Regions from separate parts of the Homo sapiens genome. Here region 1 is linked to region 2. Evidence: fine-mapped expression QTL. A gene starts in region 2. The other region holds a variant in brackets. All regions are shown on one strand. Distances are from middle to middle.

Region 1 (16,911 bases), 380 kb after region 2:
CTAGTACTGGGTATCCCACAGGTGATTGTAATTCATCCTGTTCAGACCTGAACTCAGCATGTTTTCTTTAAACTTGCCCATCCTTCTAGGTCCTTATCCCAATGAATAGAACTATAGTCCACTTACATGTCCATGAACCTGGAGTTACCTTAGATAGTCCCTTTCTCTACCCAACCTCCGTGTATAATCAACCTACAATCTTTTGTACCTGTTACATACTCTTTTCTCTCAACCTGTGCTATCATAGGCTTCACACAAGCTCTCATTACCTCTCACCTGAGATAATATGATGGAGATCTAATTTGTTGACCTGCTTCTAGTCACTCCTCTCACCCTAGCCTCAACCATCTTCCATTTGGCTGCCAGAGAGTTTGCTCACTGGTTTGTTTTTGTTTCACACCTGCTCAGAATCTTTCAGTGGTTCTCAAACATCTAAGGAGATTCACAATGGCCTGCCTTCTGCCTAGCTCTCCAGGCTAATGTACCATGACACAGCCTGTGCTCTAGTTATCGAGATCTTTTTGCCATTCCTGGAGCACATCAAATTCTCTTACATCTTTATTCTTTCACACAGGCTCTTTCACCTTACTACCTACACACACCAAGGCATGTACACAAACCACAGAGAATGCCTATGCACAAATAACTAAAAGTAGGCTGTAAAACTTCCTCGCTATGAGAAAACACACAAAAGAAAATAGAGAAAACACCAACAGAGCAAAATATTTCAAAAGAAAACATATACAGCAGTCCCCCCTTATCCATGGCTTTATTTTCCAAGGTTTCACCTACTGGGTCAACCTAGGTCCAAAAATATTAAATGGAAAATTCCAGAAATAAGTAATTCCTAAGTTTTCAATTGAACACCATTCTGAGTAGTGTGATGAAATCTTATACCATCCTGCTTCATCCTGCTCTATCTTGCCTGGAACATGAATCATCCCTTTGTCCAGCATAGTCATGTTTGATACGCTACCCACCCTCTACAATGTGATTGTATAGGAGAAACGATAGTACAGTATATATAGAGTTCAGTATTATAAGCAGTTTCAGACATCCATTGGGGATCCTGGAATGTATCCCCTGTGGAAAAGGGGTGACTACTGTAATAAAACAATTTAAGATGATATAAGAGAAACCAAACATGTATGTCAGATAAATAAAAGTCAGACACATTCACTTCTTTAAAGGACTCTAATTGGATTTTAAGAAGTCTAAACTCAAAAAAGTGATATAATATGTAAGAAAAGTTACTCAAAAAATTGGAAGTATCATTTCCATCCTTTTAGGATGGGAAAATACAGTAAGCAAATGAAAATAAAAGTAAAGCAGGGGTCAGGATATTAAGGATATTAATGTTAGGCATGGTTGAATTCGAGGAATAGAACTTTATGGTAATAATAAGTAAATGCAACCCACAATGAAATTCTGAGCCTAATGCATCTACATCAAATAGCATCACATCTACATTCTTAAAGCAAAAATTATTAAAATATAAGGAAAAATAGAGAGACAGTAGCCATAAATAAGTTTAATTTATCTCTCTGTCTTTGATAACTCAAATAAACCAAAAATAAGAAAAGACATAGAGGACTTAACATAATTAAGAAGGTAGATCCTCACATGGAAAAATATATACCTCCCTTTCAAGCTCCTTTCATCTACAAAGTTTGGCCATGTCTTATTAGGCTACATATTAGTTGCCTAGGGCTGTCATAACAAAGAATCACAAGCTATGTGGCTTCAACCAATAGAAATTTATTCTCTCAGTGTCAGCAGGGCCGTGCTCTCTCTGAAGGCTCTAGAGGAGGACCCTTCCTTGCCTCTTCCTGGCTTCCGGTGATTGCCAGGAATCCTGGGCCTTCCTCGGTTTGTGGATACATCACTAGAATCTCTGTCTCTATTGTCACATAGTGTTTGCTGTGTGTATCTCTGTGTCCAAGTTTCCCTTTTCTTAAAAGAACACCAGTTATTGGATTAGACTAGTTATTAAATCCAATCCAGTATGGCAGTATGATATTGTGTTCCAAAAATAAAATTCTAACCCCACGCACAGACTGAATGGACCCTCGTCTCAACCAAGGGGATCCAAAGAAACCTGAAAATCTAGTTTGGATCATGATGGGATGGTGGAGTGGGGCAGGGGATGTTGAACATGACTCATTATACTCTCCTCTTTTTGGAATTCAGGCACAAAATTGACCAGCATTAACATTATAACAGAGATCCTAAGACTGACAGAACAGACTCTTTATAGCCATAAGATACCAAATTCTAACCTGTCTCTAGTACAGCATTACATGACAGCAAAGTCCTGAAAGAAAAAACATATTTTGAAATAGCACTGCAAACCTGTCTCTTGTGGAGGAAGTTTTACACTCTATAGAGATTCTCCTTCCTTTACTAGGTCTCTCCAGAGAGCCTGACACCTTTGATAAGAGATGTTCACATCTATTCTCTCTGAAGCCTGCTACCCAGAGGCTTCATCTACATAACAAGAACCTAGGCTTCTCTAGCCCTCCCAACTTGCCTTAACTCAGGCTAGTTTCAACTCTTCAGGCACAGCTTCACCCTTTCAACCAATTGCTAATCAGAAAATCTTTGAATCCACCTACGACCAGTAAGCCCTGCCACTTCAAGTTGTCCTGCCTTTCCTTATTAAACCAATGTATATTTCATACATATTGATTGATGTCTTATGTTCCCTAAAACACATAAAACCAAGATGTAACCCAACCACCTTCGGCCAATGTTCCTAGGACCTCCTAATAGGTCATAATCCTTAACCTTGGCAAAATAAACTTCAAAATTGATTGAGACCTGTCTCAGTTACTTTTTGACTTATGACATCATCTTTACTTGATTATATATGCAAAGACCTTATTTCCAAATAAGGTCATATTCACAGGTACCAAGGGATTAGAACTGTAACATATTTTACAATTCAATCCACAGCAGGCCACATAGGAAACCTCAGTTTCAAAACATAGGAATAGTATAGATCATATTCTTTGATCATAATGCATTAAAATTAGAAATTAATAACAAAAATAGGAAAATAAATCTTTGCCACATGAAAATTTTAGAATATCTCTTAACTCATGAGAAATCCAACATGGAAATTAAATCCAACACTGCAAAATCCCTAAAAACTAATGATAAATAAAATTTTAATATAACCACAAGTCAGAAGAAAATTCATAGTTTAAAACAAAAATTACTAAACAGGAAAAAAAAGAAAAATAAGAATTTAGAAAGGAACTTCAAATTACTCTTAAAGAAAGTAGAAGAAAGCAAATTCTATAAATAAAATCCAATCAATGAATCAGAAACAGAAAAGTAATGGAGCTAATACATACATTAAAAGCTGGCTCTTTGAAAAATGAACACACATTAAAATGTATAATCCATGCGTTAGTTACCTAGGCAAGTATAGTGAAAGAAAAAAAATGAGAAATAACCACAGTCACGAAACAGATTTATAAGATAATAATTTAGTCCACTTTGTGCATATAAATTCAATGACAAAGAAGTTTCCCCAAAAAACTAAAAAGTTCCCAGATTGATTCTAGAATTAATTTCTAGGTTTAGGTAATTATAAAAGTTCATCTCCACAGGGTACAGAGGATGAGTAAATGTTATGTGGGACCCAGGACATTTTTGCACTTTTTCATGCACTGTTCTATGCATTGCTCCATGCATGTTAGGCTTTCTAGAATTCCTGGCCAGTACTCACCAAATACTCATCACCACCCCATTACTGTGGTGACCACGCAACTTTCTAAAACACCCTAGAGACAGACAAACCAGTTAGACGGCTGTTGTCATAAATCAGAGGCAGGAGAGGGTAGGGCAGGAGTGAGATGAAGAGGAAACACAGGATTTTTGACACACTATAGTGATTAGAGATTGGTTTAGGAACCAGTTGGAGGGTAACACGGAGAAGGGTGGTGAGAAAATTAGGCTGAGTCTGATTTAGGACACATGAAAATTTTAGAATATCTCTTATACAAAATATCTCATATACAAAAACATGAGCGTTATTCAGTTGAATATGATTTTACTTTCTTACATCCAAACACATTTATTGTGTTAGGTACAAGCATTTGACTACTTCATTATGTCTAATATAGTTATTTTTAGCATTTGTAAGCTAAAATGAATATTATATTACAGGTAGATCATTATGTTAGATTTTGCAAAGTATGTGCATAGCAGGACTATACTTACCTATGAATTTCATTTCAGGAAAATAAGCGAGTTGCAAAATATAGTCCTTTTGATTGTCCCCAAACCCCTCCCCAGCCATCCTCCTGAAGGGCCTGTTGCCGACCCCAAGACACTGCTTCCAGCAGACTCAAGTCTTTGCAGAACCCATGATTATGACAGTTGTCTCTACTCTCAGTTACCAAATGCCCTGATATTTATAGGCTCTCTCTACAGACACAACTGCAACTGTCCTTCTAAGAGTGGCTACAATAAATCCTAAAGTCCTGCAGCCTCAGGGAGGGCAGGAAAATGGTGGGGGCTGGCTCAAATTCCTAAACACACACACACACACACACACACACACACACACACACACACACACACACACACACGCCCTCTAAGACAATACTTAGAACACATTTAGGTAGCTTACAGCACGCGAAGCAGGGAAGTAGTAAGATTTTGTCTCTAATAAGCATTATGCAGCACTAAATGGAAGAAAAAACCAAATAGCGAAATCACTCTCCCTCTCCGAAAGAAAACTACTAGCAAATAAAAATACTATTGTCTGCCAGAGTCCACACGGCGCCACGTGGAAAGTTCCCCAAATTACATTTCATGGATGAAGTTTGATTTAGAAAAGCACCCCCGGCATAGTGTTCTCAAGAGCTTTCAACACAGAGCCATGCTTCAGACACGCAAAGCTTCTGCTCTCTCCTATGCTATTAACATTACATCATAGCCTTCAATTCCCTAAAAGATAGAATCTTTTCTCCCCCCACTGGCTTAAGAAAGGCTAGTCTACTAAAGAGGTTTTGTCCACCTGCTGCGGGAAAAATTGGTGAGTCACTAATAAGAAAATTTACTCACCGTTAGAGGAATTAGGAAAAGGAGGACTATTGGGTGTGAACTCAAAGAATGGGAGTCTCTACAGCCTTAAAAAGTCCAGTATCAGATAGAGTACATTACATTATCACATTCATTCCTTCATCCATCCACTCTGTCATCTATCCATTCACCCATTAATCAAGTATGAACTGTGTGCCAGTCAAACAAAAGCAGAACAAAACAACACCTTCCCCCCAACACACACACAAAACACACACAAGTGCCATAATACAGGGCAACAAGCGCCATGTTAAGAGATGAATGGATGTACCAGGTGGTAAGGGACCACTCATGACAATGCACAACCAGACTTGGAGGGAGAATTTTGGGACTTCCTGAAAAGAGCAGTATTTAGGCTGAGACGTAAGGTTCAGCGGGAGCTGGCCAGGTGTAGGCAAGATAGTGATGGAGCAGAGGATAAAGGGTCTCAGAGGTATATTTGAAAAGTCCTAGGGTCAAGCCAAGAAAAGAGAAAGTTGCAGCCTTGAGTAAGAATGGGGGCAACAAGAGAGAAGCCTGAAGAAACAGAGTGCCAGGATACAGGCAAGGGATTTAGACTCCCTCCTAAAGTCACAGAAATAAATGACGAATTTAAACAAAGGAGTGGTATGATCCACCTGTCCTGCTTTATTTTACAACATACAATATAAAGTATTTGCAGTATTTTTTTTCTTTCTGCTTCCCATAACTCTGGACATGTGCTTCATAAGGACAAGGTCCTCAACAGCTTTGTTCACTGCTTAATCCCTAAAGCAAGAAGCAAACAATGTCTGACACGAAGTAGACAATAAATATTTGTTGCATTAATCAAAGGAGGGATGCATGAGTGTATTCTTCCGTGTATTCTTAGCACCCAACTGAATCCCCTAGCACGTTTACTCAGAAACTTGGTCACAGGGATATTTCTGTGCTAAATTTTTCCCATTACCCAGTTTCAAGAGACAACTAGTTTGCATTCGAAGTACAAAATATCCTACATTTGGAAGCTCTGGCAGATCAAATGCTACTGGAAAAATTTAAGGGCTAATAAATTATGAATGAAATTAATAAAATACACTTTTTTAAAGGAATTTTAAAGTACCTGGTGAAAGCTAGATTTCTAAGGTGGTAACTTTGAGCTGTTTCAGTAGCACCGTGACAGAATAAACATCCCTTCCCTAAGAAAGCAGCTTACAGCTAGTATTTCCACA[G/A]AGTCAGTGCCTAAAGCCCAAGAGGCTCTCATGAATTTCATATGTGGTTTAACCTACAAAGATTTGCATGTTTCCTTTAACGTAAAACCAAGTCAATTGATGAGAAGCTGCTGTGTCCATCACATATCTTCTACCAATTTCCTAAGGCATGGCTTTTCTCCTTTCTAAAGAATTTTATTTTTGGTAACTCTGGGCAACTTTTCCTCATCCAGTTGTTCACAATGAATTGATGATTAAATTGTAAGAGTGCCACATTAGTTTGGGACTTTATTTTCTGGATTGAAAAAAGAGAGCATACAGGCATTTTTAGCAGAATGAGAGAAAACTATTCATTAACTCTTCCTCTTCTCACTCCCTTTACTTTTGTTTTCCTTATTCCTTCTTGCTTCTCTCTCACGCATATGCACTCTCTCCTGGGTGAGACATATAGATATGGATATAGATATAGATATAGAGATAGATGTATATATATACACACATACATACATATATAAAGACATTTTGATAAATTATATAGATAAATTTTTCATTTTATACATAATAAAAGTAAATTATATATAATATATATAATTTTTCAAAGTTACTTGATGTAATCAAGTTATTTCTAGAGGCTGGGCATGGTGGTTCATACCTGTAATCCCAGCACTTTGGGAGGCTGAGGCAGGCAGATTGCTTGAGCTCAGGAGTTCAAGACCAGCTTGGCCAACATGGTGAAACCCCGTCTCTACAAAAAATACAAAAATTGGCCAGGCATGGCGGTGTATGCCTGTAGTCCCAGTTACTCAGGAGGCTGAGGCAGGAGAATCTCTTGAACCTTGGAGGCGGAGGTTGCAGTGAGCCAAGATCATACAACTGCACTCCAACCCAAGCAACAGAGTGAGACTCCATCTCAAAAAAAAAAAAAAAAATCTAGAGATAAATTAAGCCATATTTAATGTCTGGACACCAGAGGATCTAGACTGGTGAAAACTCACATTGCATCTGAGGATAGCTAGCCTGCTGCAGTGATTGATAGAGATGTTTTAGTTAAGACCCTGAACTCCTTACCATGAGATCACAGATAGCCCTCAGGCTTGAGGATGCCCAAATTTAGAAATCACAGGATGAAGATCTCATACAATGAAATTTATAAAACATCCTATTAGACCTGCAGGTATAAATATGATATCAAACTTTCTCCCAGATGTGAATTTAAAACAAGACCTATTATCCGTGGCATCAAGCTAAAATAATATGTATGGACTACATTCTTTAAATAAATTATGCTATAGTTGAAGATCAGATATATCCAAAAGGCACACTGATACATATTAAAACTTTAAACAACTTTTTATTGGAAGAAGTCTTAAAAAGCTAAAGAAATGAGTCTAATAAGCACTTTGATTTTTGTTTTTTTGAGACAGGATCTCACTCTGTGGCCCAGGCTGGAGAGCAGTGGTTTAGTCACAGCTCACTGCAGCCTTAACTTCCCGGGCACAAGCAATCCTCTCACCTCAGTCTCCCTAGTAGTTGAGCCTACAGATGCACATCACCATACCTGGCTAATTTTTCTAATTTTTGTAGAGATGGGGTTTTGCCATGTTGCCCAGGCTGGTCTTGAACTCCTGGAGAGGAGTTAAGCAACCACCTGAGGTTGCCCAGCTAGGAAGTGGTGGAGCTGGGATCCAAATCTGTGCACATATACCCCAGACTGAGCTTGTGAGCTCAGATTGCAGCTCCTGAGTGAAGAGATGCTTTTACCACCTACATCATAGAAAACATGGATGCTGTCAAGCTCAACTTCCTTCATCTTTGCCATATCCCCTTTTAATGTACCTATCTATATTCTCACTCATTACATATATGCCTCCTTCTCCACTTCTGTCTATAGAGCTAACCCTTAAACGTGCGATCTTCACTTATCTCCTCTACCACCTGATACTACTCATCTCCTCTCTCCATCAATCTCTTGTTCCCTTGTCTTAATTTTCTACCTCCCCAATGGCTTTCCCTTAAATTATAAAATGTGAAATCCACTGCCATCACTAGGGGAAACCTGCTTCTCTCTGTATTGACTATCCAATTTTTTCCCTCTGTTTACAATCACATTTCTTGAATAATAACTTCACTCTCACCCTCAATACTTCCATCAGCTCCAGGCTTCATGGGCTCTCTAAAATTGTTCTTAATAAGATCCAACATTACCTTCTATCTGTTCGCTTAGTCCAATAGATCGTCAGGCCTGATCTTACTTGGCTCCGTAAGATATCTGACATCACAGCCAACACCTTCCTTCTTGAAAGCCTCTCGTCTCTTCACTTCAATGACATCTCTATTTCCTCCCTTCTCTGTCCTGTTACCCAGCCATTCTTATCAAATGTTGGAGTCTCCAAGATTCTATTCTTGAACTTCTTTTCCTACTCAATGTGTTCTCCCCAGATGATCTCTTTCTTATGGCAGTTTCAGGCCTGAATTTCCAATGACAATTGTTATCAACAACATGATATTTTATCAGCCACTCAAACTGTGTGGCTCAAACTGAACTAATTGTCCCCTGACCACAAATTCTCATGCATTCCTTGCAGGTTAATTATATCACAACAAACTAACTGAAATCAAAAATTGGGAGTCAACCTCGATTCTTTCCTCTCCTTTATTTCCTACCGGTCGTGAAATCTTTGCTAATTTAAACTCCTGGATATCTTTGGAATTCATATCCTCCTTTCCCTCCTCATTGTCATATCTTTCTTCAAAGTTGTGCCTGTATTATTGCAACATTTTAAAATTTATTTTCCTGAACTTCTGCCATACTTCTTAAATCAACTCTATATGTGATCCTCAGAGTGATACTTCTAAGACACAAATTTGATCAACCATGGTAGGCTAAATAATGGCTCCCCCAAAGATATTTACATCCTACCCTGTGAATATGCTACCTTACATGGAAAAAGGGGCTTTAAAAATATGATTGAGTTGAGAATCTTGAGATGGAAAGTTATCCAGTATTATCTGAGTGGGCCCAATGTCCTCACAAGGGTCCTTATAAAGTGAGAAATAAGAGGATCAAAGTAAGTAGTAGGTGATGTGACAGCAGAAGCAAGAGGTTGGAGTGATTTAAGGAAGTGGGAGATCAGGAAGTGTTAAGCACAAAGTTAACTTATACCTTTAAAAAAAAAGGAAAATTAAAGACAACAAGCAGATATATACATTATATAAATAAACACAAGAACTTGTTAAACTTGTGAAACACAGGACTACCCAAGACAAATGTTTCCCTTTCCATTTCTACTCTAGGCTATATGAGGAATCTATTTTTCTCTTTTTCTTAGAACTCTTACTCTGCAGGATCAAAATGTCAAGCAGTGACCACATAAGTGGGAAGTAGATCAAGACGTGCTTATAATTACATTCTTGTGGTTGGTATAAAATTCTGTACCACAGCCATTCCTTAGAAGCCAGCTCATGGGATCAAACAGACAAGCAAGCTCACTTCTCAAGCCCACGATGTTACGTATTAGTCCATATTGGTGAGTTCCTTTGTGCCCAAACTTAGCTGCCGCACACTACAGTGATAGGAAACTGCCAACAGTTTTTTGTCAAACCCACTACAGTGGATCCCACAATGGGCTGAGACCTCGTCTAGAGTCATCAGGTTTTCCAGGATGTGCAGATGGCCTGGAAACTTGGCCAAGAGGTAGGGATCAGCACTCTTTAGTAAGCTGTATATCCACCAAATGCTGTGACACAAGGAATGGGCCTCAAAATGTTTCAGGCCAGCACAGCTTTGTCTTTGCAAGTCATTTTTCAGTGGCAGTTAAATATTGTGGCAAAGCCAAGGTACAGACTCACGTGCATTAAAATATGCTTATGAGTAATAATACCATAAGTATTTCCATGTGCATTAGGTGTCAAGAACTTCACACACATCATTTCATTCCCTTATCATGGCACTCAGTCTGGTGGGTATTACTGTATCTGTTTCACAATAGGAAACCCAGTATCTGAGATGTTCAGTGCCTTTCCCAGTTACCCAGTTGGTAAGTGGGAAAGTCAGGACATGAATTTTCAGTGATTTTATTAAAAAGGCAGGATGATACAGTGATTTAAAGGCCTAATTCTAGACCCAGGTTGCTTAGATTCAAGTCCCAGCTCTGCCATACTCTGTTAGTATAACTTTGGCCAAGTCACTATGCCTCAGTTTCCTCATCTGTAAAATGGGGATCATAATAGTATCTACCTTATGGTACTATTATTTTATTTATTGTTATTGTGAGGATGAAATTTGTTACTATAAATAAAATGCACTGCCTGACATATGCACTATATAAGCATTGCAATTATTATAATTGATTCCAAACTCATTGATGTCTTTATTTCAGTCTTCCTCTCCACCGAGTGTGTGTGTGTGTGTGTGTGTGTGTGTGTGTGTGTGTGTGTGTTGAAACTTAACATCTGGAATGGAGGTGGAAGGCAAGACTGAGAGATTGGAGATGGCGTCAGAGAGCTCCTAGCAGGTATGTCAAGGCTCTGATCCAATCTCTGGGCTAGCAGAAGCCTCCAGCAGCTCTCTGGGGCAGGAGCATAAGGAAACTCTAAGATCTGTACTTCTGCTTTAGCACTAAACCAGTACAATGTAGTCTCCCAACCAGGAAATGGATGGAGACTCCAACTCAGATGCTGTAGATCTTTGCTAAGGCCATTCAATCCATTCACAATAGAGTCAAAATGAGATCTCTGGAAGTTCTGAAAACTCTTATTGTGATTCAGGTCACAGAATTAATTTTCTGATCCTATAAGCTCAATATCTATGTCCTATCTTGAACCCTTTATCCACTTTTATGTACATAAATCTTTGTCTTTATCAGTGACTATTTTAGAGTGTACCCCTAAAAATAGCATTAAGTACAAGGATTTAACATTTTAAGGCTCATCATCCATACTGCAAACAGCTTTCCAGAAAAGCTGTGTCAATTCGCACTGGCTCTGCCACACCTACCCACCACTAAGTATCATGATTGAAAAACGGAAATCTTTGCAGTACAGGGACAGATAATGTCAGATTGAATTACCTTGTGTTTCTTTTATTACTACAGAGGTCAATTTTCTCATATCTGGAAGCCATTTGTATTACTTATTTTTAAGGTATTTATACTTTCAGTACATTTTTTCTGTTGGGGGATCCTGCTTTATTTAATGATTTCTACAAGATCTTTTTATAGTAATAAAATTATTCTTTGGTTATTTTGATGGCAAATGCTTTCCCAGTAAGTTGTTTGCCAATTAATTTATTTACTTTAAAGTATTTTCTAATAGAATCTTTTGAAGTTGTCTCATAAAAATTCAGAAAGTATTATTTTATACTTTCCTATATCAAACTGATGTATTTAAAAAACACATCACTCTTATTTATTATCTTTTGGCTAAAATTATACATTTCTTAAAAGGTACACAGAAATTTAAGTTTTGTCAGAATTCCAGCTCTTTGAGGAAGGAGGTCTGACTATTTACTCCCCACTGTGTCCCAAAACCAAACCTACAGCTGTTCCTAGCACACAGTAGGTATACTATTTAGTTCAGGTATACTATTTTACTAATAAGTTCAGTATTATTTTGGAATTTGTATGAAAGTAGCAAATCAGACTCCCAAATACTTTCCAGGAATAAAAGACAATTACTGCTGACATGCAAGCTCTCCAGTGAGATTGCCTGGTTTCCTGGTCAAGGTATATTTCATTGTTCTAATTTAAGAGCTTGTAAGCTGGGGGCTCTTGTTTTCTTTGTATTTCTAATTTTTTTACAGCATAGATAAATCAAAATTCCATGTGTTTCCCATGGTCTACCTGATAAACATACTTCAAAGATATGTCTGCCCTTGCTCTTGGTCTCCACTGTCACCACTCCAGTCTAAGCCAGCATCATGCTATCCTGACCTCCTACAGTGCCCTCCAACCTAGTCCTTTGATTCTTCTTTTGACCTCTTCCAATACCTTTCCATACACAGCTTGAAGCATGAGCATCTTAAATCATCAATCTGATGATGTCACTCCCCTTCTTAAAACCTTTTGTTGTTTCCCAGTATTTTAAGGATAAAATCCAAAATCCAAAGTCCCACATGTTCTGGATGCATCTACATTGTGAAAAGACCTTCTCCACCTTTCCTATTTACTTTCACTATGCTCAACCACACTGGCTGCATTTCAGATCCCCAAATAAGCCTCCTATTCTGCCCAGGACCACCCCACAGTCTGCTGCCTCTGTTCAGACAGCTCTGCACACCTCCTGCCTGGCCAGCTCCCTGTCATCTGGCCACTTCCTATGTGTCACCTTCCCCTATAATATGCTCCTTCCCCAGGCTACCTTAGGTGCCTATCTTAGTCTTTCCAGCACCCTATGGTCCACCATACTTTTAGAGCATTTTTCACAGTTTGTAATTGTATATTTAGTTGTATAATTCTTTGCTTTACCTTTCCCCTAAAGGACTGTAAGTTCATGGGGGCAGGAATGGGTCTGTTTTGCCCATCACATATCTCCAACACCTAGCAAAGGCCTGGTACATATTTTGCACTCAAAAAATGCAAGCTGAGAAAATGAGTGCATGAGAACAGCTCAAGGCCATCCTCTCCCAGGAAGCCTTCCTCACTTATGCCCAGGCCACTGGGTTACTTCCCTTTTCAAATACTCAGTAACATTCTTGTTTGCAATAAGACAGAATAAGCACCACTTATTTTGTTCCAGATGATGTATTGCACTGTAAGCAAAAATGCTTCTGGTTTTTATTTTTAAAGTCTTCCTTATTTTTCCCCCTACAGTGCTCATTGAGGGCAGGATTTGGCCCCCAGCTCCTTCTGGAACCCAATTTCCTTCCATGTTCCCTATCACAACCCTACAGACACTGGCCTCCTTGCTGTTCTCAAATACTCTTGACACATCCTTGCTCAGAGACTTTGCTGTTCCCACATTTGGAATTCTCTGCCCTGAGATGTTTGAATGTCTGCCTTCCTGCTCATGCAGCTGCTGCCCAAAGGTCACCTCTTCAGATAGCCTTTGCCTCCACCTTCTCTCCCACTTATCTCAATCCTGCTCAATTGTTCTTCCCAGCTGTTGTCACTATTTACCATTACACCACACATTAACACATGTTGTTTATCATCTGGCTCCCTTGCCAGAACACAGGCCCTGTGAGGATATGGGAACTTTTCTGTTTGATTCCCACCATGTGCCTGGCATGAAGTATTTCCTTTTAAATACTTATCAAATGACGGAATTTCAACTCCAAGGAGAACCTAGAGGCCTAGTGTAGATAAAAATGAACATAGTAGATTTTAGCTGGTTTAAGAAACTAATCCAACCTTCACTTGAGGATCGTAACTCAGAGAAGGAAGACAGGCATTCTTTAATCGATAGATTGCTTCAGATGCAAAGAGGCAAGTAAAGGAAAGAAGTTGGTTAAAAAATAAAATAAAGTAGAGAATAGTGGAGAAGAGAAACTAAAGTGGATGAAAGACAAAAATATGAAAATTGCAAGGATCAGAAATCCTTTCAGTAGCTATGTGACCACCAGAAAGTCAAAGTCCTGACTTGCTCCTCCTCCTGACAAAGGTGGCTCTGAATGAAGGGCAACCTCTCCATGCCGGCAAATCCGCTCAATGTTCATGCATTCGATGAAGTATGCCACACAAGATAGTAATCAGAGGAAACTCCCAAAAATCAAAATAAAAAGAATTAAAACAGTGAAGAAAGAATTATGGATAATAATAAAAAAGAAATTAGATGATAATGGGGAAACATATAACAGTCTCACAATGAAAAGAATATTTCCTTTATTAAACATAACTGGTATTACATCATTACATCAAACGGGTTGACCTGTTCAGAGTTCCCAAAAAGAAAAGGGTATAAGATGTTGTCACGTTGAAAACCACCCCAAATCTATAACTTGAGATTTGCATATATATATGAAAACATAAACAAGTTGGGTGTGTTAAGGCCTTGTTGTAACAGAGCAGTAAGAACTGTAATAAATTGGGGTGGGTGGGAGGTTTGCTGCTGATTGTCTGACTCAGAAAACAAGCCCTTAATCAGTTCTTGACCAGCCCTGTGTTTTGATTGCCCAACATAAGATTAGAATTATGTTGGCAGTTTAATATTCAATTGTTGAGGAGAAAATAGCTATGTCTATAATATCACATCCGGTCTCAGAATCTGCAACCCTCTGAAACAGTCTGGCTTCTACCATTAGCCATTACTTTGACCTTAGCTGATCAAACTTCTTGTATCTCAAAAATTAACTTCTATCAGAAATGAGTTCTTAAAATTCTTATTGACTTCCTTGATAAACTAATAATTCAGACTACACGAATCTGACAATAAAATTGAGAAAAGTCCAGGCACAGTGGCTCATGCCTATAATGCCAGCACTTTGGAAGGCAGAGGAAGGAGGATTGCCGGAGGTCAGGAGTTTGAGACCAGCCTGGTCAACACAGCAAGACTCTGTCTCTACAAAAAAAAAAAAAAAAAAAATAGAAATAAGGCTGGGCGCGGTGGCTCATGCCTGTAATCCCAGCACTTTGGGAGGCCGAGGCGGGCGGATCACAAGGTCAGGAGATCGAGACCATCCTGGCTACCACGGTGAAACCCTGTCTCTACTAAAAATACAAAAAATTAGCCAGGCGTGGTAGCGGGTGCCTGTAGTCCTAGCTACTTGGGAGGCTGAGGCAGGAGAATGGCATGAACCAGGGAGGCAGAGCTTGCAGTGAGCCAAGATCAGGTCACTGCACTCCAGCCTGGGCGACAGAGCGAGACTCTTTCTCAAAAATAAAATAAAATAAAATAAAATAAAATAAAATAAAATAAAATAAAATAAAATAAAATAAATAAAAGTTTAAAAACACGTTTTAAATGGAGGAAAAAAATGTGTTAATTATGGGATTGATATTTACATTGCAAATCAAGATTTAGGGAAAAAAGAAGTATATATATAAAACTCATAACTGAAGAAAATCTAAAGTATGAGGGAAAAATGGAGTAAGCAGTATATTAAATATGATTGTCACTTGTGTATTTAACTTTTCATCTTTTTCTTTGAATAAACTAACCATTCATTAGTAATAAGTGATAGCACACATTATTTATTTGTTCTTTTCCAAAAATATTCAGAGTAAACTATAAAACCCTTATATACAATGATAAATTCAAAACACATAATTTTACTTCTGGTCCAATTTGAAAAGCCATGCAATTAGATGCAAAGTCTCTTTCATTGGTCCCTGGAGCTCCAGAAGTTTTATCAGTGAGTCAGCATCTCTCCTCCTGTTTCTCCCTTGATAAAATGAAACTTACTGGGTGAAAGAAACAGAAAAGAAGGCAGGAGATCAAAGGATCAATTTCTTCTTCACTGATATTTTTAGAAGAGCTATGAAATTTTGTTTACAGATGAACTTCATAATTCTCACCATGATTTGAAGGTGGAAAGCAAAACAGTGAAAGAAATACACAAGTGTTAGAGCCTTAAAAATGACATTGACAATTACGTTATCATTTTATTAATTATATTCTCTGAAGCAGAATTCAGCATTTCCACCCACGTTTTCGTCACTGTGAATTCTTGAAAGAGAGTGTAGCATTAGAGTATTTGAAAGACATTTATCACTTTATCATGATATGCATAAGCTTAGGTGAGAAAAATTCAAATGATTCTATGATTGTCTGATGGTTCATTTTATAATCAATGGTTTTAGGATTCTATTCTGCACTGTATTAATCTGCTTAGGCTGCCATAACAAAACATCATAGAGTGGGTGGCTTAAACAACAGAAATATATTTCTCACAGATCTGGAAGCTGGGAAGTCCAAGATCAAGATGCTAGCAGGTGAAGTTTCATTCTGAGGCCTCCTCTCTTGGCTCATAGACAGCTACCATCTTGCCATGTGCTCACATGATCCCTTCTTTGTGTGTACAAGGGAGTGAGAGAAAGAGAGAGAGAGAGAGCAAGCTCTCTGGTGTTTCCTCTTTTAAGGTCACTAATCCCATCAGACCAAGGTCCAACTTTCATGACCTCATTTAACCCTAATTAACTCCCCAAAGTTTCATCTCCAAATACTATCACATTGGGCATTAAGGCCCATTTGAATTTCAAGGGACACAAATGTTGAGTCCACAACATGCACGATAAGGCACATATGTCACTTAGTCCTTAAGTCACTAAATAATATATATTTTAAGAATAAAAAATCTAATGTCCTAATAATTCAGGTAATCAAAAATATGAGTATATTTTATACATATAAATGTTTATTTTGTATGTAAATAATATATATAATACATATACATATATACTATATATATGTATATGTATATTTTATATATGTAAAATATTAAGTTCAGTTCCTTTATATAAATTAATAAGCATCAATTAAATGATGAGTCCTTTATATTCATTTTTCAGATGTCATACTTGAGAACCACAGAAATGAAATCTTGCTCCAGAACACACAGCTGGTTGGTGGCAAGGCCCCGCCAGCTGATTACCAGTCCAGTGCCCTTTCCAGCAAACCACACCAACCTTAACTGGTATGAATGCATCTCTACATATCAGTCAATAAGGCATATAATAACCTTGGGTCATATTAGAGTTTGAGGGATAAG
Region 2 (16,911 bases):
CCTTGTCTCAGGGGATTAATGACCTCATTGGCTGAGGCCTGAATTCTTGAGCCAATCACCCTGGCAAGGGGGCTGGAATTTCCCATAGGCCCATTAAGTCTACTGTCTGGGCCAGTTCCCCTGAAGCATGTGGGTTGTGGGGAGGAGGGACTGATGTCTAAATAAAAAATCTGGATATCTTTAGGAAGGGAAAAGGGAAGTCTCATCTATGATACTGAAATTTGAATCCCTATCTATCTGAGGGCAAAGTCTGTGTTTATTTATCTGCAACACGACACCTCTTAAAATTTATGGTGGCTACAGCTTTTAAAAGTTGTGGTTTTGGGAGCAGGAGGATGGGGTCAAATTCTAAGCCACTGAAAATCATCCTGTTATCTATGCCATATGTGTTGTCAAGCCTGGTTTTAAAGGCTTCATAAATTGTCGATGAGCTGGCATGTGCAGTAGAAATATAACCATCATAATAGCTAATAATTTTAGAGCAATAATGATGCGTCTGATACTGTATTTTATATCCATTCTCACACTTACTGCCCATGGTACCTATTAGATAAGCATCCTTACTAGTTGCAGTTTATCTAGGAGGACACTGAAGTCTTAGGGGGTTAAGGAACTTCCCTGAGAACACAGTTAAGAAGGTAACTGGCTGATTGTCTGATTGCAAAGTTGTAACAGCTCCTGTCCCTCCTCACAATTCTTACTCTATTGCTTCTCCAGCTTGTTTCAACAATGCTTTTAAACAATAAGTTTGCTTTTCAGGAGCCATCCTCTTCCAGGTGAGAGTGGGAGAGCTTTATGTTCTCTCAGGCACTGTATTAGTGGCACTCTACCAACATGGGCTTGCGATGGCCATTGAAGGCTCTTAAGACTGGCACAATGCCAACGGGAAGGGCAGGTTGCCCTCAATGTCCAGGAATTGTAGGTAGCCGAATACAGTGCAGTGCTTTGGAATTACAGCACTTGGCTGACCTTGTAAAGGGAACTGTTTTCCTTATCCATTTTGGTTGCTTAGCTATGTGTTAGTACACACCAAGATCATGTGGAGCTGGCACTTCAGGAACCGAAAGAAAGACAGACAAGGACCAAAATAACAAGGGCCATGCAGAGAATTCCACTGGTCATCTCAGTGACAACTCATATGATTACAGTAATCTTTACTGTGGGTGTGCCCTGCTTTAGGGAACATATGTTAACAACAGATAAATGAAGGAGTGATTATTCACTTTAAAAAGGCATAATGAATTTACAGAAGGATTCACTGGAAGAGTCTTTTAAATATCAATGAAATGCAAGTAAAATGCAATTTATTATACACAATATCATGTAATATGTTTTCAAGAGTACAGTCATTGGGTTAAGGGCTGTTTACATAATTATATTTTGAAGAAATATAATTCAGATAGCTTCCACAAGATCAAATTTCAATATATTTTCATATGTCTATACATCAAGATATATTCATTAGGGCCCTACTATGTGCAAGGCACTATAATATATTGACTCAGTAGGTCTAGGGTGGGTCCCAGATTCTGCCTTCCTAACAAGTCCCCAGACCACACTTTGAGTAGCGAGGGCTTCTAGAGATTCAGGCCCTCAGCTTCCACGGCTACTGATGGTCACTGGGTGTTGTGGTCTGTGCAGCTGGAGTGAATCCCTATTACCGTAATTGTTCCAGTCTCTAAGACCTGAGTGAGAGCACCTGGTTGGCAGCACAGGCAACACACCTGCACTTTATTCCTTGGAGAGTAGAAGCTTGCTATCTGCTCTCTTCCACTTCTGTAGTGGAAGGTAGGCCCTGCTTCCCACCATGACTCACAATAGAAAAAATCCCTAAACAAGTGCAGATGCTGAGCACCTAAAAAGATGATAAATGTCCACTGTATGAACTATGCGAATTTATAAGTAAAAACTTCATTTAGTTATGTAGCTCACCTTTGCATGATCCATTGTGCAGATGTGGAAGTCCCAGGAGCCTGGTCAGCCACATGATTCTAGCCTTGGACTCTTCCCCCTCCAATCTCAAATGGAAGAAATGGCTCTCCTTTGTCACATGCCCTTTCTTATCTGGCATGCAAAATGCTCCACATTCCAATTTTCATTTGCTTTATTTGTTTTCCATTTAACTGCAGTTTTTTCTTGTGTCAGGAAGTTTTTTCTCTGGATTTAGTTTGTGAGAGATGATGAACTCCCCAGGTATTTAGTTCATCCACATGTTAGGATTTACATGGCAAGTTCTCCAATATTAAAAAATAAAGGTAAATCTTATGCTGCAGTTAAGAAGAATGAGAAATGTCAAAGTTTACAACTGTTTGTTCCCCTTTTAGGTTCACTATCCCCATCTAAACTGTAAGCTGACTTTTATTAAAATGTAACATTTACCTTCCCAAAGTGAATTTGTCTTCCTATAATAAGAATAGGAAAATATCACAATTTACTGCAAAAAAATAGCAAATACAGAAAAAACCTAAGTAATTTTTAATAAAAACCATAATTTTAAAATAATGCCTTTCTTAAATATACAATACTCTAACAGAGGCCAAAAAATTGGCATGAGAATTCAAATAAAATCTAATATCCTATGAGAAGAAGATATTGGACAAAGATGCTTGTCAAAACACTGCAATATAGACTTTGATTTCCACATATGGTTATTCATTACCAGTCACTGAAGGGCAGGAATCATAAACAGACATTTCTTGCCTGGAAAGTGAAGACAGTAGGTTTAGATTTTGTTAAGTTAGACAGAAAAAAGGGTACTCAGGACTATCAGTCACTTGGTTGAATTTCTCCACTTTTTAATCAGGTGTAGATATAGCCCATCAATAAAAGGGTCCAACTGCTGGAGTGGACATGAATTGTGGGAGGCTGGATACACTGTCCTAGATGAGGCATGATGCCACAGGGTAGGCAGAGAAGCCTTTCTGTCTTTTCTTTTCTTCCCTAGACAAACAGGAAATGTTTAGCTCACCTAATTTAAAACTAACTATGGGTAACTTCAACATTTACTTCATAAATACAGCAAATTTGAAACGCTTTGGACTCGAGGTCCCAGAACCTGATTTTAATTTTGGTTCTGGGCCAGGCGTGGTGGCTCACACCTGTAATCCTAGAACTTTGGGAGGCTGAGGCGGGTGGATCGCTTGAGCTCAGGAGTTCAAGACCAGCCTGGGCAACATGGTGAAACCCCATCTCTACAAAAAATACAAAAATTAGCCAGGCATGGTGATGCCTGTAGTCCCAGCAACTTGGGAGGCTGAGGTGAGAGGATGGCTTGAGCCGGGGAGGCGGAGGTTGCAGTGAGCCATGATCGTGCCACTGCACTTACAACCTGGTCAACAGAGCCAGATCCTATCTCAAAAAATAAAAATGAAACAAAATAAAATAAATTTTAGTTCTGACATCCTTTCTTCATCTGAAAAGGAGAGGGTCAGAGTAAATGATTATAATGATTTTTCCTCTAAGATTGTGTGAGTCTAATGACTAAAATGATTTATATCTACAATGTACTCTGTTATGAGAGATACAGGATTAGGACGGGACTTGAACTGGAGATGGAAAACTTTAAGATGTCAGAAATACTTGGAGAAACATGGGAAATATGGGAAGATAGGTAGGTAATAAGAGGAACCTTAGTCAAAAATATCCTCTTATTGCTTCTCCCATTCCTTGGGGCTGTGGAATGAGGGACATATTTTGCCACAATCATTAGCTGATTCAATGTTGTTTGCAGCTCTAATATCTGTTTCTTGAGAAGCTTTCTTCTGAATGAGACAGTCACAGCAGCAACTCGCCACAAGGAGAAATGATTTTCTGGTTATTGGTGGAGGTAGCCAAAGCACCATCACGCCACGGGCAAGATAAAATCAAGTCTAAGATTGCAGATTCTCCATCCTTGATTTTTAAGATTCTCCTCTTAAATAAAGGACATGCAATCACCATACATGGACCTATGAAATGTGATTCAGAACCAGGGAAGATGTAAGAATCAGGAACTAAACATTAGCCACTGCCGTGAAGCATCTAAATGAAGGTGTCTGCTTTCTGGTTTTCTACGTCATATTTTTCAATGTGTTGAAAAAAGAAAAAGGGGAGTCTGGCTTTCAAGAAAATAATAGTCTTAAAATTCTCTGCTAGGTGAGAGTTACATGGATCTGGATGGATTTACCTATTGTTTTTCTTTTGTGGCTTGAACCATCCAGTATAGCAAGCAGAAAGGAATTTTATTATTCTGCTTTGACACTGGAAACAGTAGCTCAGCACAACACTTCCTACAGGCCCTCAGTGTGTCCAAGTCTTTCGTATACATTATTTAGCACTCACAAAAGCTCTGTGAGATTGGTGAAATGGCCCCCATTTTGATGTGAATATATTATAGCAACTCTGAGATGTATGTCAAGGTTCCCTAGGGATCCCACTCAGGTCTCCTCACTTCAAGTCAGATATATTTTGAGCCACTACTCAGCTTCTGGACTCATCTGGAAAGAGGCATGGCTGTGAAAAGAGAATGGACTTGGCTCAAGAGCAAGTCAAGAAACCAACCAGGTAAAGACTGAAAACATTGAGGCTAGCCCAGCCTCAAGACATCAGTGTATATTGGGACCATTAATTGTACAGCGTCTGCTGGGACAATGATGTGCACATCACAGCCTAGTGGGTTGAATAAATGAGTGAATGATACATGTATTTGCCTCTCTCTCTGGAAGGCAGAGTAAATATATGGAAGTTTGTCCAAAAGAATGAATATTTCTAAACATAAATTGAAATGCTAATTTCGAATAGATCCCTTTGCCTTCCTTTCTGAAAATGAATTTTGATCTAACTAATTAGATTGTTCCTATAACTTAGGTAAATTTTTCAACCTTATTTCAAGTGTTAACTTTTGAGGACTGGAATATAATGATGAGTGACCACATGCCCTGATAAATCTTGAGCTTACCAGCATAAAAAGGAAACTGCATAAGCTTGTGTAATTTATCAGAATTACCAAAAGAAAACTGGCACGCAAACCAACAATTTTCCATTAGCTTGAATTGTTTGCTAGATAGGAAAGTCAGTTAAGAACAAATCTTCATATTCTAATAAAGATTTTACTTCGCATAGGTAGCTTTACATGTTATCAAGGAATGGCACTCCCTTTCTAATAGATTAAAGGCATCAAACAAAGGGTTTACAATTGAACAGATCCAGTGCTATCAGAATTTGCTTTCTCAAGTGTAAAATATTTCAGACCATAGATAAGAGTCAGGGTAAAGATAAAAGTAGTATCTACAAATAGGTTAAAAAATTAAAAACTTGAAGGAAGTAAAGACCCAAAAAACTTTTAATTATAAATTATTGAAAACAAACACCAACCATGAAGGAATAAGGTTAAAAAAGTATGGCATATCAATTCAGTGGATATATGATATTATGAATTATGATGCTGATGTCTCTCTATTTTTATACATGTTTCCATGTCATTCAATTTATGCATCATACTCTTATCTAGAAGAGAAAGAAGGACTTAATGAGAATCACAGATGCAGAGCTACATGTATTCGCATAGAAAAATGTCCAAAAGTATTGTTGACTAGAAAGGCCAAGTTGAGGACATTATGTCCAATCGCATTTACATGTACATGTTCATAGAAAGAAGTCCCAAAGGCAAAATGTAAATCTTATCTTCAGGACAAGATTTTGTCTTCAGCAAAATATAAATAAATGGTGGCTGTCTTCAGAGAAGGGGAGTTCAAGTGATTTCTACTGTCTTCTTTGTGCTTTTCTGCACTATTTGAATTTTTATATGAAGCATATATCACATTTTGGAAGAAAGAAAGCTAGACGGCATTAAAAAAAAAAAGCAGAGTAATAATCATTAGCAGTAGTGGCAGCAGTTGGTTTGAAAAAGTAAAAACCTTTCTCAACAGAATAACAGATTTGTAAAGGCACTTCAATTTGGTGGCCTTGTGTTAAATTATTTTTTCTACCACTTGAATGGTGTGTATAAATATAGGCTCTGAATGGAATTCCACCAAGATATTAAGATAAAAAGCAGAATATAAAGATGAAATTTCAGCCAAACATCTGAAACCTTAGTCTAAATAATACCAAATGTTTATCTGTTTTCTATCATGTACGAAAAGTACATAAATAATGAAGTTTTCATTTGTCATGCAGACATTGTTAGAATTATCGAGCTACAGCCCAGAGGGAAGGGAATGAGGTAAGGGCGTTTTATTTTGCTCCTGTTTTTTTGGAGACATTTGTAAGCAAAAGAAGTAACAGGGTCAGTAACATCTCAAACACAAAGGAAGTTTCAATGCACAGGACATCATCAGATATATGTTTCAGACCTAGTGACAAAATTCAAACAGCACTTCATTGTTAGAAATAGAAGATTACCCAATGCTCAAATCCCAGTTTGATGCTCAAGAGATACAAGGATATAGGGAAAAAACCAAACTGTTGCTTCCTGCTCTCTACTCTGTACTCTCGCAGTCAGTCAACACTTCTGACACCAGGTGTGTGGGTGTTTTTCTAACATACCAACCGAAACAAGTCTGCAAGGAATTCTCCTGTGGGCACTGGCTGGGTATGTTCTAATTCAATCCAATTATGACACTATCTACCTAGAGATAGCATCAGATACCACAGGTTGATGGCTCAGTCCCACAGGATTACCCCCCTCTTCAGATGCCAGTCACGAGCAAGTTGTGACCTGTGCTTCTGACCCATGGCACCTCCTTTGGTTTGATTAATTTGCTAGAGCAGCTCACAGAACTAAGAAAAATGCTTTACTTATGTTTACTGGTTTATTGATATAGAATATAATATAGGACACAGGTGAACAGCCAGATGGAAGAGATGCGTGGGGTAAGGTTTGGGGGAAGAGGTGGGAGCTTCCATGCCTTCCCCATGCGCACCACCTTTGGGGAACCTCCATGTGTTCAGCTATTTGGAAGCTCTCTGAACCCTGTCCTTTGGGGTTTTTATGGAGACTTTATATGTAGACATGATTGATTACCATCATTGGCCATTGCAGATCCACTCAACCTTCAGCACCTTTCTCCTCCCCAAAGGTTGGGGAGTGGGCTGAAAGTCCTAACCCTCTCATTGTGTTTTGGTCTTTTCAGTGAGCAGGCCCATCCTGAAGCTACCCAGGGGCTGGCAGCTACTGGCCATCTCATTAGCATACAGTGACACTATTGTCACTCTGGAGACCCCAGAGGTTCTAGGAGTTGTGTGTCAGGAAGCCGGGAGGAAGACCAAAGATATATATCTTATTAGAAACCACAATATCTCAAGAGGTTTAAGATTTAAATGGTTATCTTTCACTTTATCTATTCAGAAATTTGGTCTGCAAGAGTTTAATGTTATAAAGATTAGCAGACAACTAGAGAGAACTAGATTTTGGATTAAGCAGGAACAACTCTCCTCCCTGACGATTTATTATTCTCTGCCTTGAATAAGCACTGGCATTAGAAAGCTAAACCACAGAACACATACAGAATATTAGTATTCAGTAAATAATCATGATTGCAGTCACCAAGTGCAGACAGTCTGCAGTGGGAGTGTTCCCGGTCTCCCTTAAAATACTGCAGCTGTTACATTAATGGGTGAGGATCCAGGGTAATATCAAGGAACAAAGATTGTTGAGTTTGATTAGTTCTAGTGGATGTCATCTTCAAAATGCAACTAATTTGATAATACCAGAGCATTTCTGAGGGAAGAAGGAAAACAAGGATAATGTTATGTAAATAGACATTATTATTTTCATCTCTTTGGATGAAACCGTTGACATAAACCATTCTAGAAGCAAAATGAAGCAAGGAAGTGAGAAATGAGTGAAGCAGCCCTTTCTGTCTGTAAATAATTGCAGGGTGGGCTGACAGCTCTGGGCCAGAGGCTGTAGAGTGGGCCCAAAGCAGGCTGGCTTCCCCCTAGTAATTGTCATAGTAGCTAGCATTTATGGATGTTTAATATATTCCAGGCCCTTTCCTAGCTGTTTCACATGGATTATGTAATTTAATCTTCACTGCCATCCTGCAAAGTAAGTACTATTATCACTGTCATTTTACAGATATGAAAATTGAAGCTTGGGAACGTTAGGCAACCTCTCAAGGTCACACAGCAAGGAGCGGAGCTGGCATTTGGACTCAGGCCTACGGCCTCCTGAACACACTACATTCTATTGTTTCTAAAAGCTTGCTAGGTAAGAAGGGCCTTATTATTTATAATCCACCAGGGGCTTCATCCTCTAGTTTCAAATTGAGCCGCTTTTTTTCTAATTTGATGGCTTAGAAATAGTCACTGTCAAGCCAAGACCATTTTTATGCTGTTGTGTTTGAAATACTCTCCTTCCACCTGTCTCCTTTCCCACCTCCCCTAGTTCTTAAAGCTGGTCTACAGAAGAATTAAATATCTACCTAATTTGAAAACAAGAGGGAAGGATGGCCCTGGAAATGCTTAGAACTAAAATTTGGGTTTTGAACCTACTGGCAGTATTCTTGCCTTACTCAGTCTAGTGACTTGAAGATGGCCAGTGGACATTAAATGTTCCTGGAGACTTGAATCACTATTAAAGCCCAACTCATCCTTGGTTCAAATTCTTTTATAAAATAAGAACAAAGTTTACGCAGGTAGTAAATAAGTGGTAATGCATATTCAGCACTCAAGTCAGGCTTGATTATCTCCACTAACCTAGAGAAAGGTTAATATGAGAGTGTGCATCCAATTTTCCTGCTCCCATTGAGGGAAATAAGGTGGTTTCATCTAGACGTTTGAGCCTCAACTCTTTCTACTTTTTAGTAAATAATTTGTTTGTTCTCATTCTTTGGAAGATGAATTCTTTTTGAAAACATTGACCTCTTTTATCGCTTTTGGTTGTCTATTGTCTTTGTCCATTGTCTGTTGCTGTAACAGAATACATGAGACTAGGTAATTGTTTTAAAAAAGAAATTCATGTCTTACAGTTCTGGATGCTGGGAAGTCCAAGGTCGAGGGTCTGCCTCTGGTTGCTTCTGGTGAGGGCATTGTGTTGTGTCATAACTGGCAGAAAGCATCACAGAGAGCCAAACTGGCTTTTATAACAGACCCGCCCTCTGATAACTAAACCAAGCCTATGATAACACATTAATCCATTAACCCATTAATCCAGTAATCCATGAATGGATTAGTCCGTTCATGAGAGCAGAACCCTCATGACCCAATCACTTCTTAAAGGCCCCATTTATTAATATGGTTACACCGGGGATTGTGTTTCAGCTTGAATTTTGGAGGGGAAAAACATTCAAACCATAGTAAATGTCTAAATCAGGACATTACATTTTTCATTAATGGTAACTATTACCATCAGAATTACTGAAATTTATTTGTAGAGAAAATTTCAGATGTCCTCAAGATATCCTCAAGGTGGTCACAATTCTGTTAATAAATTATTAATCAAAGTGCTAGATCACTGAGATTTTAGTTAAGAAATCATTCTAAAAGTTCTCCTACTAAATCTGATAAAATCATTTTTCAGAGAGAATACAAATTTAAAAGTATAGTGTTGAGCAATGGAACTCATAACATTCATGTCTGAGTGCTAGGTTAGACCTAGAAGATGCTGAAAAATCTATAGTTTGAGTGGATAGGCACAATGGTGCTTCTTATTATTAAAATAGAAAAAGTGACTAAAACATCTTTTTCCAATTGGAGAGGTCTTGTTTCCTTTACCGTATTCAGCTTCCATAATGAAATTTGTATTCCTGCTTTAGTTTTTGTATCTTGTCCAGATTTTTACTCAAAATATTAGTCAAGTCATGTATTTTCACTGTTTCTCACTATTTAATTAGGTCCAAAATCTAACCATTTTATTAAGTACAGATGAATTACCAATATGTCTTCATGAACGACTCCTGGGAGATAATGAGCAAGGGGAGATTTCTATTAGGAAGAAGAAAGAACTGAACTAGTGAGCTGGATCTACATGTCTCCTGCTAAATTTAAAGGCTGCCTGGTTCTTTTTGCTTGTTAAAAGTCAATTAAGCAACAGGTTTTTATTGAGCATAAAATATTCTGGGCAAGGTAATGTGCTAGATATATTGCAACATAGTGGGAAGGGTAACACCCCACGTTTAAGAATTTAAGTCAGGAGATGAGAAATATGTACATAAAAGTATTATTAAGAATATAAGGTAATTCAAAGCAGATGGAGAATAAGAAGAAAAGAATATAAGGTAAATGTGAAATATTAGTATGAGCAGTAAGTGCTGAAAGAATTCAGAGACTAAGAGTTTGCTTCTGGGTAATCTGGAGAGACTTCATGGAGGAGGCAGGATCCAATATGTACTGGGAAGGATGGTGTGGTGGCTGAATTAGTTGCCTAACCAGCATCTATTCACTCTTCTTTTCATACTTTAGAAACCATCCCACATACAGCACACTTGTTTCAGGGAAAGCAAACTCCCTCTTAAGCTCCAAGGGAGAATCCTAATTAGTCTAATGCCAAGCCAGTGATAGTAACATCTCTTCCCTCATGATTCATTCAGAGAACTAGGCTTATGCCAATCAGTAAATTGTAGTTCCTTAGCAATTGGCATTGATCTAGGAATGGGCACAGGAGTGCAGCACACTTATCTCAGGAAAAGCAAACTCCATCCAAGTTTGGGTCCAAGCAGTCTAAGAGGAAAGATGTTTATTTCATGATTGGGCATCAGATTGGTACTCTCTCCCACTGGACATGAAAAAGACATCATCAGTTGCCCCAGTTTCTTCTGGTGACCATGTTAAGAGATGGCATGAAGACAAAGCTGATACCTGCAGGAAGGCTGAGGCTGGAGAACAGGGGAGATGCAGATCTGGAGCCCGTTCCTGTGGTGCCTGAAGTTTGATCTGCCTCCAGATCACCTATTGTGTGAAACAATATATTCTCTCAATGCTCTAGCCAGTGAGAGAAAGGCTTTCTGTAACTTTCAGCCAAAATCATCCTGTCTTCAATAGTAGAGTGGACATAAGCCGGTTGCCCTCTTGGCATTTCTTTCCCTTTTTTCTTGGCAACAGAACCCTGGTTTTATTTTGGAGATCCCTCCTCCACCATTTTGCCATGTGGTTTGAACAGGAGAGATGTTCTTTCAGCTCCAGATGGCAGTTCTCTGGATGCAGTGATTGATTCAGACATGGGCACAAGAGAAACAAGGAAAATTTGCTGAGGCTTTTGAAAAGAAGTTTTTGCTCTTTTGCATGGGAGCTGCCAGATACATGGTTCTCTATTCTCCTGGATGGCCCATGAGCAACGGGGGCCTGTGTTAGTTTCCTAACACTTCTGTAAGAAATCACCACAAACTGGCTGTCTGCAAACAACAGACATTTATTCTCTCATAGTTCTCGGGGCTGGAAGTCCAAAATCGAGGAGCTGACAGGTGATGTGCCTTCTGAGGTGCCTCTGAGGCTTTAGGGAAGAACTCTTCCTTCCATCTTCCTAGCTTCTGGTGGTTGATGGCAATCCTTGGTGTTCCCTGGCTTGTGGCTGCCTCAGTCAAATATCCGCCACTGTCCTCACCTGGCCTTCTCCCTCTGTGTCTCTAAATCCATATTCCTTTCTTCCTGTAAGAACACCAGTCACCGGACTAGGACCCATCCTAATTCAATATGACCTCATATTAATGCAATTACACTGCCAAGATCCTATTTCCAAATAAGGTCACATACTCAGGTCCCAGATGGACAGGAATCTGGGGGGAACACGATTCAACTGAGCACAGGGTCTAGAACTCTTGCAGCCATTTCTGCTATTCTGAAGGAAACCAGCCTGAGAATGAAATCAACACACAGAGCCAAGATCATCTCAAAATAAATGACATCATGAACTTCTGAATCAAACTGTGCCTGAATGTGCTTTACTTTGGACTTTTAGTTTACTTGAGCCAAGAAATTTCTTTTTGTTTAATCCACTTTGTGTTGGGTTTTCTTTTGCTAGTTACAAAAATATTTTAATGAATAAAAGTGGATATGAATTTGGTGACAGGAGGAAAAGCTCTTGCTGAACAATAGAAAATGGCATGAGAAAAAAATCAAGAGGATAAAATAAAAGGAGTGTTGGAGAAAAGGTTTGGCTAGAGGAGAGTATTCATTAGTGGAGCAGGGGACATAAAGGTGGATAGTTTAGCTAGTGTAAGTTTTTGGAGGTCTGTAAATGTCAAGTTAAATAATTTGAACTTTTTCTATAGAGCAGATGGTGTCTATAAGACAATTTTTGAACAAGGAAGTTGAATCAATTAATGTGCCACTGAAGTGCAGGCTATTTTGGAAGGGGACAGATTAGGAGAAGAAGTATTAATTGCAAGAGGCTAGAATCAGATTAAAATGTGTTGCTCTGATGTTTCCCAATTCAATCAAGCGTCCAGCCATAGATCGTAATTTCTGGACTGGGATTTAGTCCATGCCTATTCCTCTGAACTCATTCCGTCCCACTTGCCCACCCTGATCTTCTTCCTGTCCCCAGAAGAGACCACAATGATTCTACATTTGGGCCTTTGCATTGGCTGTTTCCCCGGCCTGAAATGCTTTTTCTTCTTGATCTTTGTATGTCTGGCTCCTTCTTGTCATTCAATTCTCAGGTCAGCTGTTAACCTCATCAGAGAGGACTTTCCTGACCGGTCGGTCTAGGGTAGCCACCTGTCCCTCTCTATCATACTGCCCTACTTTGATTCTTTACAGCATTAGCACCACCTGCTATTTTATTATTTATTTATTTATTTATTTATTTTTTAGTTCTTCCTCTCCCCTAACTACAAAGTAACCTTCAGAAGAGTAAGGAACTTGGCAGTCTTTTCATTGCTGTATCCTTAGAACCTAGTAGGAGCTCAGTAATTACATCTTGTATAAATGATTAAGTAATATATTTAGCTATGAAGTTTTAAAGTTGCTGAAATATTGAATAAATACATAAATTCTAGAAGAGTGGCAAAATTAAATGATTTTGCCAACTGAGAGATAAATAAAATATTTTAAATATAAATTTTACTCAAAAAGCAGGCAGGCGTGGAAGAACTAAAGTATGTAAGTATTTTTCTCAATGTTCCAAAGAAACGAGGATAATTTTTAAAACATCGCTCTTGTCTCTTTAGGCTGTTTCCACCAGAAATGCCTTGGGCATAAAGAAAAGCCCTGGGGAGCTTTGAGGGAATGTATTTAAGCCTTTCTGTTTCCATTTTTCCCCAGTGGCAGTTTCATTTCAAGGCCAGTGTTCTATAACTAGCTCTAGGTTTCTAGAGCAATCTACGTCTCTGAAATGATTTGGAGTAAGACACATTCTCTGTTTTATTGTATCTATGATGGAACCCCTCCTCCCTCCCATTTCTTCTCTAGTAAGTAGAAACTTGTGTGTTATTTGCCTCCACAAAAGGGGTTTTGACCTTAGCATGAAGCTATCCTACCATTAATCATTATCTTCTTTTCCTTGAAATACGCCATGGGGCATTTACCAGCCCATTATGAAAAATTTTTGTCACATAGAATGAAGCCCAAACAAGCCTTAGCAAAGTAATAAAGGGGAGCATTCTATGATGCAGAGAACTTCCTAAGGCTGCCTTTCTTTATTAGTCTCCCAGGCTGCAATTACTTATAATATACCAGTGTGACTTTTTCTGAGATTATAATGAATGAGCTTATGTATATTACTGATTTGCCTCTTTAAGCTGAATTGGCTGGTAAATAATTTGAAGTTGCTTATCCAGGCCATGCGGAAAAATACTAGAGTGTTGACTTGAAGGAATGGGCCAGCCTGGGTGAACTGGCTACTAAATTCAAATGATAAATATAATAATAGCTCAAAAGAGATACACATGATACACATCTGAATTCACTGCCAGTCAAGTTTGGGAATGAAATTCTAAAGGCTTCATGATTTTGGTTTGCTAAAACGTTTGTAGTGAATACTATTTGAAATTACTAGTATGTTGGCTGGGATTTAGAAATCTTTAAGTCACGCAGAAGTTTTTGTTTTTCTCCCTCCCTCCCTCCTTCCTCTTAATAGTTTCATTACTTATAATGGCATTTAATCAGGGATGTCTTTTGAATAAATACCCTTAAGGAAGGCCTCTTTAAAAGTAAGAACTTCAAGGGAATTAATGGAGTTATATAATAATGAAATACATTTTATAACTATTTGCATAGTTTAAAATGTTTGACCAGTACCATGCATTTTCAAATTAAATAATCTTTTCTTTTTCTTTTTCCTGGAGAATATGTAGTTCTGTCATAACTACTGTAATTTGTAAAAGTTGTAAAGAACCATTTTAAATAGGCTAAGATGTATACTGGAAAAGTTAATGTACCACAAACTAAATATGTGTAAGTTTATCATGAGATGTGTGTGTATTTTAGAAATCTCAGCAAAATTTTTGCATTTAATTGAGCAGTCACATTGGAAAGCTATTAATTTATTTCAGCAATGTTGCATTTTCCAAAATATTTTTGGGCTGTGTCTTTGTAATTAAGAACTTATAGCATGTTCTTTTGAATATTGTTAATGGCAGATTTTCTTCCATCAAAGACTGATTTGAATGTTGGAAATAGTCAAAATGTATTTGTTCTTAAATCAGTTTTATAAAATAAAAGATCAACTTGTGTTATAATCTTTGGAACTGTAGACATAGCAATACAAGAACATAGGATTTTAAAGCTATTTCATTAATTTTCTTGAGTGGTTCAGAGTGCATCTGAAGTCACTTTTCGAATTGCGATAAATATTTGTTTCCTATTTGATTGCTGTTTAATTTACTTCTATGCTATAGAGGAAAATGTTTTAGATTCCCAGTAATCATCTGACATAATTACTCTTTTGGAGCTCAGGAATCCCTTTACCACTGCAGTACAGAAAAGAGCATCTGCAGATATTCAGGTGTATTTTAAAGGCATCTCATCCCCCGTCCCTGCATAACTCAGATTTATGCAACAGCAAGATGAAAACTACAAAATAAAATAGAAACACACTGTTGAACTCCATGTTCCTGAGATAAAAATCTGTCTTTTAAATATGCATCTCTGAGTGCTCTACAATGAATAAAGACAAATGTATAGGGGACCAAGACTCATCATTGGTGAAACAAAAATATAATGGGAAGTTTATGGGTTGCAGGCACAGACACAGGGAAAACTGCACTTGAATGAGAATAGGTTCACCAACCACTTCATTACTCCTGATTGTATCCACACCCTTGATTCATTTATTCAACAAACATATATTGAGCATCTCCTAGGTGCCAGGCACTGTTCCACTGTTCTTAAGGGCTAAGGTTCTGTCGTCGAACATACCTTTCCCTGTTCTCATGGAGCTGACATTATGGTGGCAAGGACAGACACAATTAATTAATTATATATTTTTAGATATAGTGTAGTTGTGTGTGTGTGTGTGTGTGTGTGTGTGTGTGTGTGGAGAGAGAGACAGAAAGAAAGAATAATTATAAGTAGTTGTAAAAGGTATGAGGAAAAGTTCAGTAGAGAAGGAGATAGAAAGTGATGTGGGCATTATTTTAAAGAGGGCTCTTGGAGACAGCCTCTCTGGGCGAGGTTGGGAGGTATTTGAGGTGAAGCCTGGATGACATTACAGAGCCAGCCTTGCCAATATTGGGAGATAAGCATTCCAGGCAGAAGCAACAAACAGGAAGAGGCTCTGAGGTGGGAGGGGCAGCTTGGGGTGATTGAGGACAAGCAAGGAGACCAGGGTGAATGGAGTGGACGGAGCAGGTGGGGGCTGGTGGGAGACAATGTCTGAGATCACCAAGGGCTCAGACCGTAGCGGGTTTGAAGGCCCTGTGAGGACTTGGAATTTTTTTGGAGTACAAAAGGGGGCCATTGGAGAGATTTTAGCCAGAGCAGTGACATAATCCAATTTCATGTTTTTAAAGACTCTCCTGTTAAATTTTGTATTTTTAAATAAATTCTCTGCATAATAATGATACTAAAATTTATTGTTTTCCATGTGCCAGGCACTGTGCCAGGCATTTCACATGGGTGCTTAGAATAAAATCCAACTCCTTTCCATATCTTACTGGTATGAGTTGAATTGGGTCTCTCCAAAAAGATCTGTTGAAGTCCCAATCTTCTCTACCTCTGAATGTTGGTCTTATTTGGAAATAGGGTCTTTAAAGAGATAATTAATTCAAACAAGGTTAAAATTAGGGTAGACCCAATCCCATATGACTGGTGTCCTTATAACAAGGGGAAATGTGAACATTGACAGATATGCGCAGAGGGAGGCCTATGTGATAAGCCACAGGGAGAAGGCCACGTGAGGTAGAGGATTGGAGTGATCAATCTACAATCCAAGGAACACCAAAGATGACAGGCAAGCCACCAGAATCTAGGGGAGAGACTGGGAACACATTCTCCCTCACCGCCCTCAGAAGGAACCACCTTGGTTCTGACACCTTGGTGTCAGACTTCTAGCCTCTGGCATTGTGAGAATAAATATTATTTTAAGCCACCCAGTTTGTGGTATTTTCTTATGGCAAAACCCTAGGGCACTACTACAGTCTCCTTCTCCCTAGCCCGTTAGGGTCAGTCACACTGCTCTCTTCTATACATGCCTTCAGGCCCTCTGCTTAGAGCAAAAGCCCCAGGGTTCACCCATGGCCAGCTCCTTCCTGTCCTTCAGGTCCCAGGTCAACAGCACCTGGTCTCCTGATCTAAATAAGCACCCCACTTCTACTCCTGGGCACCCTACCCCTCTACTGAAGGACTCCCAACAGTCCCTATTTTAGTTATTTTTTTCATAATACACCCACTACCTGAAACAATCCTGTTAGTTTTTTTTTTTATTTGTTTACTGTCTGTTCCTCATCTGCTCCTGTTCTGTTCCCCACCTAGAAAGTCAGGTAAAAGAGCAGGAAGTTTGCCTTCTTCAACACAGAAATCCCAGTGCCTGTAAAATATCCTGGTACACAGTGG

What was found.
Region 1: its variant is fine-mapped to the expression of LINC02421 in tibial nerve (GTEx, PIP above 0.99).

The regions. Positions count from the first base shown.
Region 1 is chr12:68,096,636-68,113,546 of GRCh38, forward strand. No RefSeq gene overlaps it. Among named protein-coding and RNA genes, the nearest start is that of IFNG, 55 kb to the right of the region's middle. The variant G/A (reference allele first, on the strand shown) is at 6,288.
Region 2 is chr12:67,720,447-67,737,357 of GRCh38, forward strand. LINC02421 (long intergenic non-protein coding RNA 2421) reads right to left here and starts at 9,029. Exons shown (of 5, transcript NR_110063.1): 1 at 8,950-9,029; 2 at 1,933-2,267.